Regions from separate parts of the Homo sapiens genome. Here region 2 is linked to region 1. Evidence: fine-mapped expression QTL. A gene starts in region 1. The other region holds a variant in brackets. All regions are shown on one strand. Distances are from middle to middle. Region 1 holds the start of SIRPB2 (signal regulatory protein beta 2). Region 2 has its middle 43 kb from the start of SIRPA.

Region 1 (2,918 bases):
TTTAGAAAAAAACAATAGCTGAGAAAGAAATCTGCATAGATGAGCAGGTGATTCAGAAATTCCCGTGTAAGAATGACATGGAAAGTACTGAGGGTCTGGTGGAATCATCTAGGCTTGTGGCCCTTTCAAAGAAGTTTCACTATATAGATCTCATTGACAGGAGAACAAGTAGAGGGAGTAATGGAATTGAGCAGGGGTATCAATGCAAGGCCTCAAAAGTCTAGAAAAGACCAGTCACAGACCCAGTGCAAAGTCCTTGGGGACCAGGCCAGACTAACCTCCTCATAGTAGACACCAGACCTCTGGGACCCAGGGGACATACTCAGATCCAAGGCCTGCCACCCTGTTGCTGGAGAATCTTCAGCTTCCTCTGCACCCAGAACCTTCTGAAGCATGAGGGAGGAAGTGAAATAATGAAAGGCTGAGTTGTTCTTGTACTTTTCCCTGAGTTAATTAAAAGACTGAGTTAACCTAAAAGACAATGGTGAAAGCCTATAGAGTGCTTACTCCACCCCACACATGCTACCACATTTTTATTCCTGTTTTACAGATGAGGAAACCGAGGCATAAAGTGGTCAAATGATTGTCCTAAGGTCACACAGCCAGACTGAGTAAAGCCAAGATTTGAACCCAGACAGTGTGGCTAAAGAGATTGCCTGGATTGCATGAATTGGCAAGATTAAGCTTTTCCTTCTTGATAGCCAGCACCAGGAGGCTCCTGAGGAAGTTCAGATCACTTACAGGAAACAAAGATGCCACAAACGCAAATGTTTGCACAATCTGAGTATGTTTCACTTGGACCCCAGGAAACAGAGGCTGAGAGAGTTACACATGATTATACTTTTAGGAATTAGGCCTGTACCCTCCCTGCAGTGCTAAAAGGAGGCCCCCATGGGGCTTGCTTTATAATAAATCCTTCTTCTTAAGCAATGTCACCTCCTCTACTTTCTGCACATCATGAATAATAATGGTTAATATGTTTAGCATTTACATTGTTCTGTGCCCTCACATTATTTCTCATAATCTTACCAAAACTGTTCTGAGGAGGGAACTGCCGTTGTTCCTACGCTGCAGATGAAGAAACAAAAGGCTCAGAAATGGGAAGTGACTTTGAAATCTTGCACAGCCAAGAAGAGGAAGATCCAATGTTTGCTCCAAATTCCACCCGATTCTGGAGTGCGTCCTATGACCTCAGTGCCCACCTCCCTCCCGGGCACCTAGGATGGAGCCTATGGCAAGGTTTTAGCACAGTGACTACAGGAATCACAGCCCAGACACAAAAGCAGGAAACCCTTTGACCGGGCTCCTTCCTATTGCACCAACAGCCTTGTGTTGCTGCAATGAAAACACTTCCCCAAGCAGCTGTGGCCAAGAGACGCAGAAACTGCCTTGTCCACGGGCCCCGCCTCAGACTCCAACACTCACAAGAGAGCAGAGGAGCCCCAAGTCTTGGGGACCACAGAAGATGCCATGTGCTCCACGATGTCGGCCCCCACCTGCCTGGCCCACTTGCCTCCCTGCTTCCTGCTGCTGGCACTGGTCCTTGTCCCCTCAGGTAAGTGGGGTCTAGGATAGAACAGGGTCCACCCCCGGCTGGTCAGTCCCTAGAGGGGCACTAAGTGCTCTGCCATGCCTGAAGAAGCTTGACCCCATGAAGATAGAGTAAAGAGGGGTCCACTGAAAATTTGCCTGACTCCGGCAGAGGGCACCCCCAGTGTCCCAAGAAGCAGCGTAGTGAAGTGATAAGCTCCCAGGCTCTGCGCTCACACCCACTGGCTTCCAGCTTGATTGCTCCTATGCCCACGTCAGATGCTGCAGCTCTTTTAGCCCCAGGAGCCTCTTCTACAAAACAGGGACGCTCATGGGACCTTTCTCTAGGGCTACTGTGAGTATTAAATAGAAAAGTGGTGAGGCTCAGCCCTGGGCCGGCTGCATAGTTTATGAGACCCACTGCAAAATGAAAACTGCGGTCTTTTGTTCAAAAAGTATTGAGCAACACAGCAGAGCAGTAAACCAAGCATGGGCTCCTTCTAAGCACAGGGCCCTGTGCGACTACATAGATGGCACAGCCATGAACCAGCCCTGGCTCAGCTTAAGACGCAGTAGGCTCAAACCTCACCACTAACCAGTTTAAGTAATTTCTTTCTGAGCCTCAGTTTTTCCAACTGTAAAATGGAGCTAAAAATAGGACCCACCTTGGGACTTTCTTAGGAGAATTTAACAAGATAATACCCATAAGTGCCTGGCATAACAAAGATTTGATAACTCTTGGCGATTATTATTATCATTCCCATGTTTCCTCTAACTCAGGGGCAGGCCAGGTTAGCTCCAGAGTCTTGAGACCCCTGAATATATAGCTCAGCCTCTGAGTCCAGAACTCTCTGATCTACCAGGCAGGGATACTTGGCTCTCAGTGGGCTCATTCCATCTCCTGCCCATCTGGGCCTCTGCTCCAGGCTCTACTGAGATCTAGATTCTGTCCATGACATCTTTGGTCCTCCGGGGTGGCCATCCCCAGGAGAGATCCTGGCAGAACCCAGGTGTGGGGTCGGACCTAGGTGCTCCCTTACTCATTGGCCGTATGACTCAAGACACCACTTCAATTCTCTAAGCTGATTTCCTCAATTCTAAGATGTGAATCATAATTGCTAGGTCTCATTCCACAGGTACTTTTGAGTGTCTGCTATGTTTTAGGCACTAGACTAGGAAATCAGAAATCTAAACTACTCAGAATAAAAAATATTCCCAATGATTGTTGCAATAGAATAGATGGAAAATAAGAGAAGTTGCTTAAACCAGTCAGTTGGAATGTTTGAGTCCAGCTGCATCTCAAGCTGAGTCAGGGCTGGTTCTTGGGTGTGCCCTCTATATAGTGGCACAGAGCCTCCTGCTTAGAAGGGCCCCATGCTTGGTTTAAT
Region 2 (2,918 bases), 360 kb before region 1:
ATACATCTCTTCTCTCCTCCACACTGAGGACTGACCCTAGATCCCACCAGAGGCACCATATGCACTTGTATCCCAGGGTTGCGTAGCCTGGTCATCAGATACCACTGGCTTTGGAGTTGGCTGGTCCTGCTGTGACGTTGCATAGGCCACTTCCCACTCTGAGCTCCACTTGACTTGCCTTCAAACAGTGGGTGATAATATTACCTTCATCACAAGCGGTGATGAGTGGTAGACGAGCTCCAGGCCATGAAAATGCTTTGCAAGTGGGACACTTAGTAGGTGCTCAATGAATGGGGTCATCACTATGCCCTCCTCTCACTGCTTCCTTCCCTCCTCAGTGAGACCCAGGATCCAGGTGGGAGCTCAGACCTGGAATTCTTGCTTAGCCAGAGAGTGTGTCCTATTTGCATCGATTTGCATAAGGCAGGGAATGGTGTGTACCTCTTTTTGCCTTTAGTTCCTGCAAGCTCACATCACCATTTAACAATAGGGTGTTGATCTTCCCCTTTCCCTACCATTCATTTTGCCTCTTGAAAGAATTTCAAGCTGTTAATCAAATATGCTGGAGTTGGAAGCTGTTTTTATTTTGGCCTGGTGCAGAATGGGGTCACCAGCTCTGGGCAGTCCTTGATTACCTGCTTTACTGGAGGAGAGACAACAGCAATGATCTCACAAATTGGAGGGTCCTGGAAGCTTTTAAAAGAAGAGCCAGTTTTATTTTTTATGCTTACAAAAGTAGAACATATAGGTAAAATGGAAAATATATAACAGCAGGAAAAATTCCCCAACAAATTACCCATAATAACGGTAACCAAGCATAATCACTATTAACATGTTACTGTCTTTATTTCATGGTTGATTTTTCCCTCATGCAATTTTTCTATAATTGAGATTATACATAATATATATAATGCTACAGCCGGCTTTTCCCCTGTGCTATAATATTATAAACTTGCAAACATCATTTTTTATGATCATGTAATATTCCACTGAACAGATAGTTTTAAAATCCTTCCTCTGTTATAGGACATTTAGATTTGTCCAGTTTTTTTGGTGGGGCTGGGGCAGGATGAGGAGGATATTGTAAATGTAACTGTCATGAAAATTATGTTCCTGGCTTTTTCTCTGCTTATTATGGGTTATTTTATCAGAAGAGAGCTCAGAAGTAAGATTACTAGGATATAAGAAGAGTGAGATGAGCTTAAGACTGTGGATAGATTTCGCTGCATCTCAATCAGTATCTGAATTCAAGAATGTACTTTTGAGTTGGCATTGTCATAGCTTCCTCTATAAACCTCAAAGCAACATGGGACACTCTGCCATGGGATTTGTTGGGCTCCCAGCCTGACGCTCCATGACTCCTGGTGCCCCTCTCACACAGGGAACACTCAACTCTTTGCTGGGGTGGATGCAAAGCTTGGACAATCTGCTTTCTTATAACATCTTTGGGCAGAACTTGTTTATGAAAGTATCTGGAATTCAAGGATACTCAAGCTGTGTCTTCAAGGCTGTGTCTCAAGGCTCTCACAAG[T/C]CCTATTTTACAAAAAATGACTTGGCTTTGGTCAGTTAGTAATGAATGTCTTTGGCTCAAACAAATATGTATTTCCAATCCAATTTTTCATAATAAGATGTCAAGAGATAGCATTCCAGACTATGCACAGCTGCCCAACAATGTTGTCTAGCCTTTGGGCTCTATTTTTCTGTTCTGCAGTCTCTGGGACTGTGGCATTTATTCTTGCAGTTTTTGCCTCTTGGTCCCACGATGGCTGCCACACCTCCAGGTATCAAATCCTCATTCCAGGTATGAAGAAGAAGGAAAGGTGAAGGAGCAAAGGAATATGCCATCTAAGTCTATTTTTTGCACCAGAAGACAAAAGCTTTTCTAGAAGCCCCACCCAGGAGATGCTTGCATCTCATTAGCTAGAACCAAGTCCTATGGCCATCTCTGAACCAATCGTTGGTGAAGAGAAATAAGGTTACCATGATCTTTGGACCAATCAAGATTCACCCCCAGAGTTCATGTTAGGGGCCTACCCTCTTTGAGATCAGTGGCTCACCAGTGCTGTGGACACAAATCAGTTTCCTTAGCAAAGAATGGGATGGGATAGCTGAGATTACTGGGATATGTGTTACTAGAAGGAAGACATTGTCATAGGCTTTGTGGAAGATGTTATGATTTCATCCCAGGGGTAAGCTCTCATTGGCTGATGCCCATTTATTTCTCTTGCCCAGTGATTGGCTCAGAGATAAGTACATGGTCTAAATACAGCAAGGACATCCAGTCTGTAATGAAAAGAGAAGGCTCCTCTTCTTTGTGCAGTGGGGTACTTGAATATGATGCCCAGAACTGCTGCAGCTATTTTGTTCTTATGGGGTAAACCAGGCTGAGGATGAAGCTTACGAGTGTACAGAAGGGGGGATAGAGACACAAGGGAAGCCTCAAGAGATGGAGCCGAGGCCTTGATTGAACTCTACCTGAGGCCCTTATGTTTTCTAGACTTTCAGTCTCAAAAGCTAATGTACTCTTCCGGTTGCATAAACCAGCTTGACTGAGGTTTCTGATGCAAGTTAAAGCATGATAACTGACAGAGATGCAAACAGGAACTTTGAGAAAAAGAGTTATGTGGTTAAATAAGTTTGAAGAACTGGATTAAGCAAAGTTTGACAAACTTTTTTTTTTTTGCTTCCCTTAGATTCTTCTATATGCAAATGTGTAATGTGAAGCTTCAAGAGGGGGAGATTTCATGTAGCATTTCCAGAATGTATTGTCCCCAGAATTGTTTTATCGTGGGACAGGACATCATTGGGAAATGCTGACAAGCCTAGCCCCTACCCTATAAACCTTGAATTTTTGACTTGAGATTAGACATATGGTTAATGTAGACGGAGTTAGGAGGCAAGTCTAAAGGGAAGGCAAA

The links. PIP is the estimated chance that this variant, and not a neighbour inherited with it, causes the effect. A credible set is the group of variants that fine-mapping cannot tell apart.
Region 2: its variant is the best candidate, but not a certain one, in a credible set for the expression of SIRPB2 in monocytes (Schmiedel 2018, PIP 0.51).

Annotation. Positions count from the first base shown.
Region 1 is chr20:1,489,912-1,492,829 of GRCh38, reverse strand. SIRPB2 (signal regulatory protein beta 2) reads left to right here and starts at 1,410. Exons shown (of 5, transcript NM_001122962.2): 1 at 1,410-1,555. The coding sequence starts at 1,471.
Region 2 is chr20:1,850,623-1,853,540 of GRCh38, reverse strand. No RefSeq gene overlaps it. Among named protein-coding and RNA genes, the nearest start is that of SIRPA, 43 kb to the left of the region's middle. The variant T/C (reference allele first, on the strand shown) is at 1,532.